Linked DNA regions of Homo sapiens: region 2 is linked to region 1. Evidence: fine-mapped QTL for protein levels in blood plasma. A gene starts in region 1. The other region holds a variant in brackets. All regions are shown on one strand. Distances are between the middles of the regions. Region 1 holds the start of ESD (esterase D). Region 2 overlaps ESD (esterase D).

What was found. PIP is the posterior inclusion probability: the model's chance that the variant is causal. Sun 2018 read protein levels with aptamers (SomaScan).
Region 2: its variant is fine-mapped to the plasma level of the ESD protein (Sun 2018, PIP 0.95). The variant lies in the coding sequence of ESD. If it changes the protein, the assay may bind it differently, which can mimic a change of level.

Annotation. Positions count from the first base shown.
Region 1 is chr13:46,793,422-46,801,766 of GRCh38, reverse strand. ESD (esterase D) reads left to right here and starts at 4,606. Exons shown (of 10, transcript NM_001984.2): 1 at 4,606-4,662; 2 at 8,323-8,345. RefSeq lists enhancers at 4,689-4,738, 4,870-5,471 and a silencer at 5,049-5,098.
Region 2 is chr13:46,767,666-46,776,010 of GRCh38, reverse strand. ESD (esterase D) reads left to right here. Exons shown (of 10, transcript NM_001984.2): 10 at 4,515-4,755. The coding sequence ends at 4,595. Among named protein-coding and RNA genes, the nearest start is that of ESD, 25 kb to the left of the region's middle. The variant G/A (reference allele first, on the strand shown) is at 4,516.

The sequences.
Region 1 (8,345 bases):
TTGATACAGCTTCAGCATAGGATGGAATTATGAGGGAGCTGTAGCTCATGAACCTGGAGGGATAACTTGGTAATAATGTCATCTTCATTCATAGTGCCTGGCACATAGCAAGTGTTTCTTAACAGTAATATTTTGAGCATGTGTGTGTACAGATGCAGCCATGGGCTGCATTACAATGTTTTGGTCAATAACTTATTATATACACTACAGTGGTCCCATAAGATTGTAATACTGCATGTTTACTCTACCTTTTCTGTATTTAGCTGTGTTTAGATACACAAACACCATTGTGTAACAGTTGCCAAGAGTATTTAGTACAGTAACATGCTGTACAGGTTTATAGCCTAGGAGCAACAGACTATACCATGTAGCCTAGGTGGGTAGAAGGCTATACCATCTAGGTTTGTGTAAGTATACCCTGTGATATTCCCATAGTGACAGAATCAGCTATCAATGCATTTCTCAGAACACATCCCTGTCATAAAGCAACTCATGACTGTAGATAGATAGATAGATAGATAGATAGATAGATAGATAGATAGATAGATCCATTTATCTGTCTATTGAGAGAGAGAGCTGGAGGGAGGACATGGGAAAAAGAAAATGGAATTTCTAAATTGTTTTCATATAGGGAGGCAAACAGAAAGGGAAATTTGGGGTGACTTGTGGATATAATGGTCCTTGCAATAAGGCCAAGATGGCATATCTGCGGGGATTTCTACCTAACAGCTGATTCTTCATAACCAAGGAAGCTGTCCTAGTTCTCAGCCTAAAAAGATAATGATATAATATCTAGAGCTACTGACTTTTGGAGGATACATAAAACCCCAATTTTCTTCTAAATTCTTAGTTTCCTTTAGCAAAATCCCAGCCATGGTTATAATGGTAATCTCAGAATTTTTTAGTTGCCTCATTGTCTATGAAATAGTTTATTTTACTTCACTCTCCATGTTTACAAATAATTATAGAAGCATGTTTAAGCTATGCTGGGGAATGTGTAAGTGACTAGGAGGCATTTTAGAAATGACCTAAAGAAATAGTTGGCATTATTGAGAAAAGGATCATGAAAGCATAGGTAGTCTCACTAGCAAAATACTAATCTTACACCAAAGGAGATTTATAAGCATTAACCAAAACAGTTAGTGAACTGGCCTTTTGTCAGTTTTCATACATGCCAATGATTAACAGATAGCCAGAGTTCATTTTGTTTCTAATAAGCTATCAATGGAACTTTAAAAATTATGAATAAACTGACAAACTGTGGCTCAACAAATATGTAGAATGTTAAGAAACTTAACAGTACTGTAATTGAGCAAAAGGTGATAAAAGAATAGGAGTCACTTTGAACAGGAAAAAATCTATAGTTTTAGTTCTCATGCTAACAAAAATAACAATAATGGCTAACACAAAAGTCTAGCTCTGTACAATCACACACTAACTCTTGATTTTTTTGAATGTGTGATGAAAAAGAAATATAGCTTTTAGGATTTAAGAATTAAAAAAAAAAAGTAAATGGAATTGAGGCCAGATGCAGCTGGGTGCAACGGCTCATGCCTATAATCCCAGCACTTTGGGAGGCTGAAGTGGGAGGATCACTTGAGCTCAAGAGTTCAAGACCAGCCTGGGCAACATAGCAAGATCCCATTTCTACTAAAAATACAAAAATTAGCTGGGCATGCTAGCACACGCCTGTAGTGCCAGCTACTCAGGAGGCTGAGGCAGTAGGATCACTTGAGCCCAGGAGTTTGAGGTTGTAATGAACTATGATTGCGCCATTGCACTCCAGCCTGGGTGACAGAGTAAGACCCTATCTTAAATAAATAAATAAATAAAATTGAAATATGTGAAATTTGGACATTTGCTAATATGAATGTGAGACTGAAAGGCTTGTCTGTACTTGTTGTATTGTACTCTGCAGTTAGAACTTAAGATAACAAAGTCAAGATGGAACAGTGGCACAGGGCTATAAGTTTCCGGTACTTGGTTCAGTTCCCATGATCCAAAGTCTGGTCCTCAGAGTACACATTCAGAAACTCAATTCTGTAAGGTGAGTATCATGCTCAGAGATGGTAAGTCTTTGGGAAAATGTATCATCTCAGCTACACTCACCAGAGACTAAAGCATTTTTAACCTAAGTTCTGATTTATTAAATAACAATGGAGCCTATTATTTTCCAAAATGTCACTAGATAAGAATAGAATCAAAATAAAGGGAATTTTGAAAAATGTTTATCTAGGCCAGTGGTTCTTAACTAGGGGCAATTTTGCAGCCCTCCTCTACACCAACCCCTCCTTCCATGGACATTTGGCAATGTCTAGAGACGTTTTGGGTATCTAAGCTTGTTAGGGGTACCACTGGCATCTAGCTAGTGGAGGCCAGGGATGTTACGAAACATCCTACAATGCACAGGGTAGGCCTCCACGACAAAGAATCATCTGGCCCCAAATGTCAACAGTGCCGAGGTTGAGAAACCCTGTTCTAGTCTGTGGAAAAGCCACAAGGACACTTCTCAAGTAGCATATTTGATACCCAAGAGATTATATTATTTTCTATGTATGGTGTCTTTTCTAGTCTCTCTAAAACTATCTTTGCTATGGATTGAATGTTTGTGTTCCCCAGAATTCAAACATTGAACCCTAAATCCTTAACGTGATGGTATTTGGAGATGGAGACTTTGGAAGATAATTACACCATGATGGTGGAGTCCATGTGAATGGGACTAGTGCCCTTACAATAAGATGAAGGAACCAGAGCTCTCCTCACCCCACCCACCAAGTGAGACTACAGCAAGAAGGTATTCCTCTGCAAACGAGGAAAAGGGCTCTCAGCAGGAACAGATTTCATCAGCACCTTGATCTTGGACTTCCCAGACTTTTAGAATGGTGAGGAATAAATTTCTGTTAAGCTGGAACTGACTAAAACAATCTCTTTTCTTACAGGCTTCAAGTATATTTGACTTTTTCTCATTTTTATTGCATCCCTTTATTGCCTCCTTAAGATTATATTCCTACTCATTTTAGTTCAAACCAAGAGTCCTATATCCTCTCAGCCACACATTTACACATAATTTTTGGACTATTTCTTTGTGTACTTAATATTCATCCATTTTTATTGGTAGTGCCATTTTTTAAAATGTCAACCTTAATTTCTGATTTCAGCCTTCTTTGCTTCCATGTCCAAATAATAATGATAATTATATATATTCTTAATATTTTTAAGCAATCGACTTTTGTGGATCTATTAACATTTTATTTATGCTGGGTAAAAGAAATTTTAGTTCTGCTTATTCTCACATTGTATTCACACAAGAACCCTTTAGTAAAGAACTTCACACTTACAGTTCTTTGGCTAGTCTGCACCTCACAGCAGTCCACTTATTAGGCAAATATATCATTTAATCAATTATTTCTCTTTGTTCAAACATCAGTTATAAAGAACTTGCAATTTAGGTATTTATTCTGTTTCAGTTTTGAAACTGAAGAAAATCCCCTTTTCAATGATTTATACTTAAAGATAGTAAAAAGAAAGTTTAAAACAATTTACTTCAATGCTTTCTCAAAATAAAAACATTATTTTGATGAAACATTATTTTCAGTCTAAGTTCCAATTGATCCACAGGTTCAGTCCACAGGTTAATTTAGTCCAAAGATCACTATGGCAAAATGGGCCTGAGCCACACAATAGATTCTGGCAGGTAATCTCTTGTGTGGCAGCTCATCCATACTTAAGTCAGCTCCCATAGCTACACAATTTGCAGGGCCCAATTCCAGACACAAACGTGGGGCCCTGGTTCAACACTTACTGAGAGAAAATGTAGCGTCCTTCTGTTCTGGGGGCCGGGTAATAGCACAGGTTGCAGGCCCATGAGGCCAGCCCCAACTATCAGATTGTGTATTTACAATGTCAGTCTAACCGTTGCTGAAAAATACTTAGCTCTGTTGTAATCAGATTTAATTTCTCAAGAGGCAAAGTACACTCAACAGTTTGCTTAAATCAGAGAGACCAAAAGGAAAGATTTGCTGTAAATTATCAACTAGCAAATCTTAGTCAGTTCAACTTAATTTTTATTGAGGGAAGAAGGGAGAAAACAGAAAACTGATGGAGTTCCCACTGCGTGTCGGCCACTGGAGATTTCAAAGGTTTCTTGTTTAACTCAAGCTACCAAGTAGGTGACGTGGATAGTCTTGGGACAGAGGAGTTGAGGGAGTTGAAATTAGGCCCTAGTTTCTACATAAGTGACACGGAAACCCTCTGCACGAGTTAAGCGAAGCTACATCTCAAGTTTATTAATGCCTCGGGTTCTTGCTGCTGGCTCTGGGAAGAGTCTGAGCACGCACAGCAGACTGATCCCCGACAAGGTGACAGGGACTAACCTAACGCCCTCCTCGTTGGTCCTAGTAACCACACAGAGCAGAAACGCGGGCGAAGGCAGGAGTTGGAGGGGGCGCCCACGCGGAGGCTGCCGGGAAGTGCAATGTGCAAAGGCGGCGGGGCCATGGAGACTGAACTGGAGAAGAGCGGGTTCTCGGAGTTAAAAGCGAGAGTGAGTGGGACCGGAGGGGCGGGGCATCATATGGGCGGGGCTGAGGCGAGGCCCCGGCGGCCATCTTGAGCCCCGCCTTTTACTTCGGCCCGCTTCTTCTGGTCACTCCGCCACCGTAGGTAAGACTGGGTTCGGGTAGAGGCCTGGACGTTGTCAGCCTTCCTGCGGCTGCGGCACGGCTAGGCGTGATCGGGGCGGACGCCGAGTCCTGCGGTGCAGGTATCCGCAGGCACGAGCGCAGAGACGGCGACCCTGGGCCTTGGGCGCCACCATCCATGACAGGAGGCCAAGGACCTTTTCCCGTGACCCGGAGCCTCGCCTCTAATCCCTTTTCCTTCTCTGAGCCTCCAACCTAGTGTAACCCGGGGCGAGCGCCCGTTTACCTACTGCCCGCTACATTTGTACAGCTTTTTCCTGTTCAGAAAGACTTTCCTAGACCCGCAGCCACCGCGCGAAAATGTGAAGTAGATGTGTACGCATTTTAAGGAGGGAGCTGGCCTCAACGCGTTACTAGCGGCCGCCGGCGCCTGGTTCGGGGGAGTGTGGACCTGCTGCTCTAGGCAGCGTCCGCGTCGGGGCACGAGCCAATGGCGCGGTCAGGAGCACTCACCTGATGGTGCCGAGGGGAGCACGTGTCTTTGGAGTTTGACAAAATCTGTTCGGGTCGTAAAATGCTCTCAGAGCGCTGTGGGGGACTGGAAGTCATTTCTGATGGGGTCATTAGGGAAATGGGATTGAGCGCACCTGGAAGGAGAGGGCATTCAGGTTGCAGGAAAAATAATAGCTCATGTTTGTGTGTGTGGTAGAAGCAGCATTTTAAGCACTACGTGAATTAACTCATTTAATTCCCAGAGCAACCCTATCAAATTGATATATATTACTGTATACCCATTTTGCAGATGGGCAAATGAGGCATAGATTAGCTTGCCCAGTGTCATGTAGTAATAAGTGGTGAAGTCAGGGTTTGAACCCGGAGGGTCTGGCCCCAAAACCTGCTCTGAAACCATTGTACCGTGGCATTGAGTAAAGCCACCCGATAGCAACATCCAGGCCATCCTAGAATTATGCATAGTTGAGTTTAACTAACAAAATAGGGAGTGAGACCAGAAAAATAATCTGGGACCAAATTATAGACCATATTTAGAGCCATGTGAAGGTGTTTGGCGTTTATAGATGCTATATTTTTTTTAAAAAATTTTCCCCAGAGTTTAATAGAAATCCTTACCTAGGCAAGCCATGTGAATTTTTATGAAGGAAAAGAGACCCAGCCTAGGCAGCATGGCAAAACCTCCTCTACAAAAAATTACCTGGGCATGGTGGTGCCACCTGTGGTCCCAACTACTCCAGAGGCTGAGGCGGGAGGATCACCTGAGCCCGGGGGCCGAGATGATTGCAGTGAGCCGAGATCAGGCCACTGCACTCCAATCTGGGCCACAGAGTTTGACCCTGTCTCAAAAAAAAAAAAAAGAAGAAAAAAAAGACTGTGTTTGCACACAGGTAGAGTGTGACTGAAGTTTATATGGAGTTTTATTCATCTATTTTTTCAGTGATCCTGCATGGTTTTAATTTTATGAAATTTTAATGGCATTAAACTTGAAGAAAATTGTACAATTAACATGGTCTTCCATTTCAGTGACTTTCTGGTTCTCAGCGACTGGCCTAACAGCGAAAGGGATTAGTAGTCTCCACCTGCAGCAGCCAGGGGGTGATGAGGCAGTTCTCATCTGCTCATTATTGTGAGCTGGCGAACTGCGTTTTTACATATGACTAATGGATACTTAACACTACTGAAATACACACTTAGGAATGGTTAAGATAGTAAATATTATGTATGTGTTTTTATCACAGTTTTTAAAATACTAAATAAAAATGACTAACAATTCCACGTAGGCCGTATTAGGCTGCAGATGAGCTGTTGGTAGGGATCCGTTGACCAGTAAATTAAGTGGATTAAAACCCTAGGCTTTCATGCAGGATTGATCGTAGTGGGATGTATTAGGAAGAAAGGAAGAGGCTAAGTTTTAATTTCTTATATATAATTAGGATGATGGCAGTGGGAATTCAAAAAGAAGGTAACTTTGAGGCATCTCAAATGTAGATTAGGCAAGACAGGCATGAGTCTGAAAAAGAGAGGCAATGAAAAGAGGAATGGTTTGAAGGTGAGATGCAGAAGCTTAATTTTAGGTGTGGTAAGTTTTAATAGCTGGTGACATGTCTTGGTAGAAGAGTCCAGCAAGAAATGTCATTATGGGTACTAATGCTTGAGAAAGATTGGTTATAGAGATGCAGATTTAGATTATTTCACCCAGAAAATGTAGTTGAAATTTAGGGAATGAGGTTTAGGGAAAGAGTGTGAAGAAAAAAGAAAAGGGAGGTGGGAGGAGACAGAGTGAAAGGGAAGAAGCCAGATCCTGAGTTTTCACTGAGAAGAGGATTTGAACAACACAGTGGTGGTCAACAGCAGTTATTGGAACTGTAGATTGTTGGTTTTGGGAACACCTGTCTAGGTTGTTAAGAGCCAGTGGAATAGGACATCCTGGAAATGAAGAAACATCAAAATCCAAGGAATCTGAGAGAATGGGAACAAAAAAACACATGTAGAGATTTATGGAAAACTTGAGACACAGGGGAAGAAGGATAAAAATAGAACTCAGATTTCTGGAGGTGGATGACATTTAACTTTAATAAGTAAAGGGCCCTGTCTCTACAAAAAATTAAAAAAAAAAATATTCCAGTGTGGTACGCACCTGTAGTCCTAGCTGCTCAGGAGGCTGAGGTAGGAGAACACTTGAAGCTTGGAGTTCTAGGTTACACTGAGTCATGATTATGCAACTGTACTACAACCTGGGCCACACAGCCAAGACCCCATCTCCAAAAAATAAAAAATAAAGGGAAGAACAGTAAGGTTTGACCTTTAGGGGAATGGATGTATTATGCACTGAGAGACCCTTTCTTCTCCAAAGAATGTTGATGTTCACTAACATTTGGGAAAAATTGTGTAACTCCCACTGGCACTGTGAAATTGTTTTTCTGTTTTTGTTGTTGTTGTTGTTGTTGTTGTTTTTTGGAGGGGAAGGAGGAAGGGTGTTGTTTGGTTTTTTGGTATTCCACCCTACTCTGTCACCCTATTTCTCCCACAAAATCTGTTCTAGAACCTAAATATATATTTGTTCTAGAGCCTAAATGAAATCTACCAGATAAGTGACATGATATATACTATGTAAGTTTCCATATATATTTTTCTTACTGAATATCAGTCACTTCATCGTTCATAAGCCCACTTTTCTTATACATCCTTTCTAGTCACCCTAGTAGTAGTCCTTCAGTCCTCATCTCTTCCCTTCTTTCTCCCCATGTTACAAGTTCGACTTACAACTGAGCCAGATAGATCCATCTTCCTCTACTTACCTAGTCCCCACTCTTATTTTCTTCACTCAGGAGTTGACTACATCTCATGCTTCGAAATTACACTTGAAAACTTTGTTTATTGATTTAAAAAGATAAAAAACTTTCATAGTACTTTTACTTCAGCAGATGGTTTTGACCAAGTACCAACAAGCTTTATGGCAAAATAGGTATTAAGGTGGCCTGTGGCAAATAATTAGATTATGGGCAATTAAGGTAATTAAGTGGTGATGTGGTATCCCATCAGGGTGTACAGTCATTTACCTCAAAAGAAGAAAACATCTCTATTGAGAATGCATATGCATATAAAAGCTCTGTATAACCTTTGCTGTGAAAAGTATATCCCATTTGTAAACCATTGGTGTTTTTTTCAGAATCGCCTACCATTTGGTGCAAG
Region 2 (8,345 bases), 26 kb after region 1:
CATTTGCTTCCCCAAAGACTGGGCCCAAAATTTCTGTTGTTTCTACAATGATTCTGCCTGCCAACAAAGTCTGAAAATCTCAAGTTTGTTATAAAAACAGCACAGTTAGAACATGATGACATTCCTGGAGGGAAAAATAAGTCCACTTATTTGTTTCTAAAATGCCTGTATCCCAAGCAACTAGAACACATAGTTGGCTATACTTAATGAGGAGTCAAGACAAACCATTCAATTCTTCTAAAAAAGTAAGAAAGTATTCAAAGCACCAGAGTCACAATGTTGAGCTCAGGTGCAATTTTCTATTCACTTTACTTCCAGCATGGTCGGGTTAAGAGTGGACTACATAGCTTGAAGCGGATTTCGTTGAGATTCGTTGTAATTGAATCAACAACTGAATGAGCATGCCTAAGTAGTGGCTCCAGAGAGTCTGCTTTCAGATTTTCTTGCCAGCTTTGACCCAAGATTACCCTGGGTCTGCGAGTTTTATCACCTGCTTTATCATTTGATTACAAGTATAGTATAACTGTATTTCCTTGTGGGATAGAAGCTGTAAAAAATAAGCTGAAAATAATAGGGGATATATATAAATAAACGATCTGAGAAAGAATAAAGAAAATAATTACAATCATGCACATGATTTACTCAACTTCATTCTTTTACCTCTTTTTAATGGTGTTAAATGCTCACAATTTATATTTATACTCTGTCGAATGTCAAAAAAAATTTTTTAGAGAGAGGGGTTAGTGCATCGGGGATATTTATTTGGTTATTATTTTATATAATTTTTTCTTTTTCTATTTTGGCTTCAGGGAATCTAAATTGAAAAAAAAATACTAGGTAGCAGAATTCTGATATCTAGTGTACAGAGATCAAATCTTAGTCTGAAAAAGAAGGGCCTAGTATGTCTTATCTTTAGTTATTGGAGTTACACAGTGAGAAAAAAAAATTTAGTGACCTAATACTGTGAAGAAGTTTCCAGAAATAGTAATCTCTTTTTGTGGAATAGAAGGAGAGGCTATACTACCTCCTTAAGTCTCAGGACCTTTTTGAAGATTGAGAGGCTGTTTTAGCCTCTGCATCTGCCTGCTAGAGAAGAGTAAGAACATGGCAGAGAATCCCAGAAATGTAGAGCTCTCTCATTCATCTCTGTATCCCATGCTTATTTAGCATAGGTATCTAGCACAGAGACTCTCAATACTTGTTAAATGAATACAGTGCAAAGTCTTCCTCCTTATACACTGAAGAGATTTAATAACCTGGGGATTCTTATCCAAGCTTTTCTAATTGGGTCTGGAAAATATATAAGAAAACACTGCCTGTTAGGATAAACATCCATCATAGCTGCTGGAGCACTGCTCCCTTTTTGAGAGCTGAGTGAAGAATGAAAGAATGAAAGGTGTTCATTTATTTTTATACTCCAGGAGTCAAGAGTTTTGCTACCAAGGATTTTCCATTTAAAGTGTGAGGTAGAGGAGAAAAGTCCCCTTCAAGTGTCACTAAACATAGGCATTTGCACAAGCTGCTTAACATATCATACCAACTCATTCATCAAAGAATTTAATTAAAGAAGCCATCCCCATTTAATAAGACTGATAAATAGAAACCCTCGTCAGGGATGATACAATTAGCTCGAATTGTGTAACTTCAGCAGGATACCAATTGTTCAAATGTATTCTATTGCCTTTTTGTTGACATTTTTTAAAATTCTTGGGCCCTCAATGGCAGGCATTTTCTTCTTTCTCATATAGGTGAATCTTTATCATTATGGAACTTATGGTCATTTGTTTTGGATTTTAGATGTCTTGTCTTGCAATATATTCCTGGGTTTACCTTGGGACTTCTCTAATAATAATGATGGCTATTCATATGTGTCTGATGGCTCTTAACACACAAGAAACTAAGGATAAAAATATGGCATACTCAGTCACATTGGAACTTGGTCACACAAGTCTTTTGAGATATCTGTTTCCCTGCATCTGTACCCATTTTCTATCAGATCCATCTTTTGATCTGTGAAAAATGGCAGATAATACTTGGTACATTTTACAGGTTTGGTGGCCTAAAACTCCAGGCCTGTTTAACTTCTTAACAATTCAAGAATTATATGGATGGAAAATGTTTTTCTTTACATTTCTTTCTTTATATAGGAAACTGTAATTTAGCTCTAAATTCAACTAGCCAGCTGGGACTAGTCTAATCATTGAGAGACATGACACCAAGTAATTCCGAGGCTCAGCTTTAATCTTGACAACATTCCTGTCACATTCACTTCCATGATAGAAGACAGATTGCTTTAGAAGACTTAAGTTACCTTGACCTTAAACTAGAACTTTTTATTAACAGCTGTTCCCAAGATAAACATTTAATACCTCTCTGGAAGGGAGAGATTGAGAACATTTACTGATTCATCAAAACCTTGGGGATTTCCTTGTTCTCTGAAGCGTCAGTGATATTTTTATTAGCTCTATTTTTATTTCTTAGGTGCTTAGAAAAATTCCCATCTTTTCCCATCAGTGACCATTCACTAGTTCAAAATGGGAAAAACAAAATCTTTGTTAGACTTTCATTTCTTTCGGTTTATTCAACCTTGTATTTTAATTGTAGATAGGGATAAATTATCTGGTGTTTGATACCCTTAGAAAGTTCTTCCCACCTGGAGTGTAAATTAGTTTAACCATTGTAGAAGATAGTGTGGTGATTCCGCAGACCTAGAGGCAGAAATGCCATTTGACCCAGCAATCCTATTACTAGGTGTATACCCAAAGGAATATAAATCATTCTGTTATAAAGATACAAGCACACATATGTTCACTACAGTACTATTCAATACTATTCAATAGCAAAGACATGGAATCAACCCAAGTACCCATCGGTGATAGACTAAATAAAGAAAATGTGGTACATATGCACCATGGAATACTGTACAGCCATAAAAAGGAATGAGATCATGTCCTTTGCAGGGACATGGATGGAGTTGGAAGCCATTATCCTCAACAAACTAATGCAGGAATAGAAAACCAAACACCAGGCCAGGCGCAGTGGCTCACGCCTGTAATCCCAGCACTTTGGGAGGCTAAGGTGGACGGATCACAAGGTCAGGAGATCGAGACCATCCTGGCTAACATGGCGAAACCCCGTCTCTACTAAAAATACAAAAAATTAGCTGGGCATGGTGGCATGCACCTGTAGTCCCAGCTAGTCGGGAGGCTGAGGCAGGAGAATCGCTTGAACCCGGGATGTGGAGGTTGCAGTGAGCCAAGATCATGCACTCCAGCATGGGTGACAGAGTGAGACTCCGTCTCAAAAAAAAAAAAGACCAAACACCACATGCTCTCACTTATAAGCAGGAGCTGAATGGTGAGAACACATGGATATATGGAGGGGAACAACCCACACTGGGGCCTGCCAAAGGGCGATGGGAGTTGGGGAAAGCATCAGGAAGAACAGCTGATGGATGCTCGGCTTAATACCTAGGTGATGGCTTGATCTGAGCAGCAAACCACCATGGCACACGTTTACTTATGTAACTGCATATCCAGCACATGTACTCCTGAACTTAAAAGTTGAACAACAAAAAAAGAAGGAAAATGCGTTAATACCTTATTGTAATTATTTTTTTTTTGGAAGACTATTTTTTATATTCAGAAGAAGTGTCAGAGTCAGCAGAAAGGGATTATTTCTCCATTTACCTACAACAATGGTTTTAAATGACTGGATAGATAGAAATCTCTTTCAACTTAACTGCTTAGCACATTGCATTTTTCTCTGTTTCATGTTAGTTTTCCAAAGGATTACTGACTTTTTACCTAATTTGCTAAGGGATGTCAGGCCTTAATGACATATTTCCCCTCACATAAAGATACAACATGCTTTTACTGTGTAGGAGGAATTGTTAACAGGATTTATGATGGCTGTGTTTGACTTCCCAACAATGATAGAACATTTGGGCATTTTTATGTTCTTTTTCTATATTGTTTGTGTGCTTATTTTGTGTTTTAATAGTCACTGTCTTACTGATGTGCTGCATTTGTGAATTGAAATGTCTTGCCCATGTTTCTAAGATCTCTAAATCCTGATTCTTTTCATCTTGGTTGATATGACAGTGTCATATCAACTGACACTGTCAATTGATAGTGTCATTTTCAATGACAGTGTCTACTCTGCATATTTAATGCACTCTACAGTGTTGATATGACATGTCTACTCTGCATATTTAATTAATGTGTTACTTCCACTCTTTACATATTAATGGCAGCATTTAGAAGTTAGGCTATGTTTAGAAGCTAGGCAGAATGTTTAGTTTTCCTTCACATTTTTGCTGCTCTTTTAATGTACAGTGAAAATGTTAAAGTACAAGGATGACAACCTTGATTTTATTATAAACCTTCCTCATACTTCCTTAATGTTATGACTATTTGTAAGCAAATTAAACGACCTTAGAGATATATTTAATGTTCCTAATACTGATGTTCCTGAATGGTAGATAAATGTCTTATCATCTCTTTATCTTCTAGG[G/A]TTATGATCATAGCTACTACTTCATTGCAACCTTTATTACTGACCACATCAGACATCATGCTAAATACCTGAATGCATGAAAAAACTCCAAATAAGAGAATCTCTTCAGGATTATAAAAGTTGTAAAATGCAACTGTATTGCTGAGCAAAAAAAAAAAAAATTCAAAACATTGGATTTTATAGTGCTAAAAGGGCTTTATTCTATAGTTGAATCACCTCTGAATAAAGATATAAAACCTACTTCTGATTTTAAAAGTTATTTTACAAGTGTTCACATAGGAAATCTTTAATGCTCTATAGCTTTTTCAGTGTCGTTTGGAAATTCTTGTATTAATCCCAGGTCATAGAATATGAATGTAATCCTATTTGAAGTATAGAGTAGCAACTCTGGAACAGAAGACTTAAAAGTAATTTAGCCCAGACTCCTCACCTTTCCAGACTTTAAGCCTCTGAAGACATTGGACTGTCTTTGTCATGTTCATTGTTGTATCTCTAGTGTCTAGCAAGTGTCTAGAAAGCAAATATCCACTTGATTTCTAGTGGATATTTAATAACTGTTAGCTACAGAATAAAGAGGTAGGCTCAGAAAGGTTAAATGAATTCCCCATCGTTACACAGCTATTTGTGGGATATTAGAAGACAGATTTTCTTTTCTTACCTATTGAGTCTAATATATTTGTGAACATTGGTTTTTGGGTGTATTAAGGTTCTCAAGAATTAAATAAGATTCAATCTGAAAATGGCTAAATAAGGAAACGTATTAGTTTCATATGTTACTGTAAACATGAATATTTTCCCATAGTTGCAAGCAGAGATTTAACTTGGTGAGCTCACCAAGAAAAGTAATATCTCTGTAAATACCCAATTGTTTTCCTTTAAGAACTTTTAATAGACAAACTTTTTGAAATGTGATAAAAGCCAGTAAAACATGATAGAAGCCAGTAAAACCTGGCTGCTTTAAAAATATATTTTTTTCTGTTAAAAAATAAATTTTAAACATTCAGTAGGAATGCATATTATGGTAACTGAAGAAAATGACATTAAGTTCCTAAAGTTATAAAATTAGTATTATTTAAACATCAGTAGTCAAGGTTGAGCCCTTGAATGAGCTGTACACAGAATGGTTCTCATTTAAACAGTCTTGTGTCTTCTAATAAGATCATTCATGAACGTTTTACATGCTGGTAATTTATTTGTGAAGAAAAACAATTGTCCCTAAGATCATTGAGGTTGAGGTTTAAACCAGGGAAGCAAAACTAGTAGGAGATATATACATTAAGATTTTTTTTAAAAAACGAGGAATTGGCATACCTGGATTAAGAAAATGTGGCACATATACACTATGGAATACTATGCAGTCATAAAAAAGGATGAGTTCATGTCCTTTGTAGGGACATGGATGAAGCTGGAAACCGTCATTCTCGGCAAACTATCTCAAGGACAAAAAACCAAACACCGCATGTTCTCACTCACAGGTGGGAATTGAACAATGGGAACACTTGGACACAGGAAGGGGAACATCACACACTGAGGCCTGTTGTGGGGTGGGGGGAGGGGGGAGGGGGGAGGGATAGCATTAGGAGACATACCTAATGCTAAATGACGAGTTAATGGGTGCAGCACACCAACATGGTACATGTATACATATGTAACAAACCTGCGCGTTGTGCACATGTACCCTAGAACTTAAAAGTATAATAAATATATATATATAAAAAAAAAAAAAAAAACAAGGAATTGGCATACCTGATTATGAGGGCTGGCTAAGCAAGTCCAAAATCCATAGAGCAGCAGTCAGGAAGGGACAGGCACAAGCAGGACGGACTCTGGGCATGGGCTCAAGCTGTTGTACACAGGAGGAATTTCTTCTCTCCTGGTGAGGCCTCAGTCTTGCTTTTAAGGCCTTCTGATTAAGTGAGGTCCACTGGATTGTCTCTCCTCTTTAAAGTCAGTTGATTAGGGACTTTATCTGCAAAATTCCTTCATAGCAACACCTAGATTAGTATTTGAATAACAGGGGACTGTAACAAACAGCTAAGTTAGTTAGTGTATCATTGTTAGAAAATAGTTGCTTTGCTTTTTTACACGTAAATGCAAAACATTTAAATATTCATTAAGTAATTGCTGATGAACAGCTAATGTTAGTAAAGACAAAGACCTTTAGTTAAAACAGAAATGACTGTTGAGGATAATAAACCAATACATTTGAGCTTGCTTTTTTGTGCCACAAATGCTGGCCTGGGGAGGGATGAGTCCTTATCAATGCCTAAATGTAACATGAGTTTCCCCAACTAGAAAGAGTTCAATCTTAATGTCTCTCATATTGTAAGGTTCCATCTCAGTGACATAGTTAACAATACATAACCTAAACATTAACTCCCAATGCTTGTTTAGGGTGTTTCTAGAAGTCACCTGACAATCAGGTATAAAAGGAGGTAAAGGAATCTGACATTTCCTGGATTATGTTCAATGTAAGACCCTTGTGAAGATTATGTTCTTGAAGAAACGTAATACTGTAAAGCCACCACCATGAAGAGTAAAAGGACAAGCCACAAAGTAGATGGAGATGCTTGCAACACATATATCTGACAAATAACTTGTATCTAGAATGCCTGAAGAACTCTCACAAATTCTTAAAAACATAAAATTTGGCAAAAAATTTGTACTTAACAAAATAGGACAAATATGGCTAATGAATGCCTGAAAATGTGCTTAGTAAGACTGGGGAAATACGAATAAAAACTACAATGCAATGAACCTACACACCCACCTGAATGGCTAAAGTTCAGACAATGGAAAATCCCAGGTGTTGACAAGGAAACATGGCGACCTGAATTATACTGCTAATAAGGTGCAATCTGGCAGGATCTGCTAAGGTCTAGTTCAACCTTAGCAAACTGGTAAGGTCTGATGAGGCCTCAGACCTTACTTAGCACGTCTCCTATAGCCTTTCAATGCATGTTTCTGTACTTAACAGGAACATTATGGCTACATGAGAATGTTTACAGCAGCACCATTTACAATGGCCAAAATCTAGAAATAACCTGAATCCATCTATAACAGAATTAGTAAAATTGGAGCATATTCATACAATGAAATATTCTACATGAATAAAAATAAACACACTATAACTGGATGCAGCAACATGGATGGGGTCTCAATCATAATCTGGAAGAAAGAATCCTGACACCAAATTATGTGCTATATAATAACTTGGTACCATTTTATATGCATAGTATTGAAGACAGGAGGTGTTACACATAGCAAGGCAATGGAAGGGGGTGGTGGGGGGCATTCTGAGGGAGAGGTGATTGGAGCATGGCAGGAGAGAGTACTGGTGATGCTATCTTCATCCAGGTGCTTGGTACATGAGCATGTTCACTGAAAATTCATCAGGCCATACACTTAGGATTTATAAACTTTTTAATATGTGTTATACTTTAATAAGGTTTACATTAAAAGTATATTAAGTAGTTATGCTGTGAAGATCATAAATATACTACTGCATGAAGAATTTAAAAATCCTGATGTTATTGCAAAGAATACTTATCTTGGGGGATACAATTTCCAGTGGCTACATCGTTTATCAATTCAAGTAATATTGTATCTCAAACCACTTAGAAGTGAAGGTGATGTGAAAAGTTGCTGCAAAAAGTGGCTGTAGGCCAGGCGTGGTGGCTCACATCTGTTATCCCAGCACTTTGGCAGGCCGAGGTGGGTGGACCACTTGAGGTCAGGAGTTTGAGACCAGCCTGGCCAACATGGCAAAACCCCATCTCTACTAAAAATGCAAAAATTAGCCAGGTGTGGTGGCAGGTGCCTTTAATCCC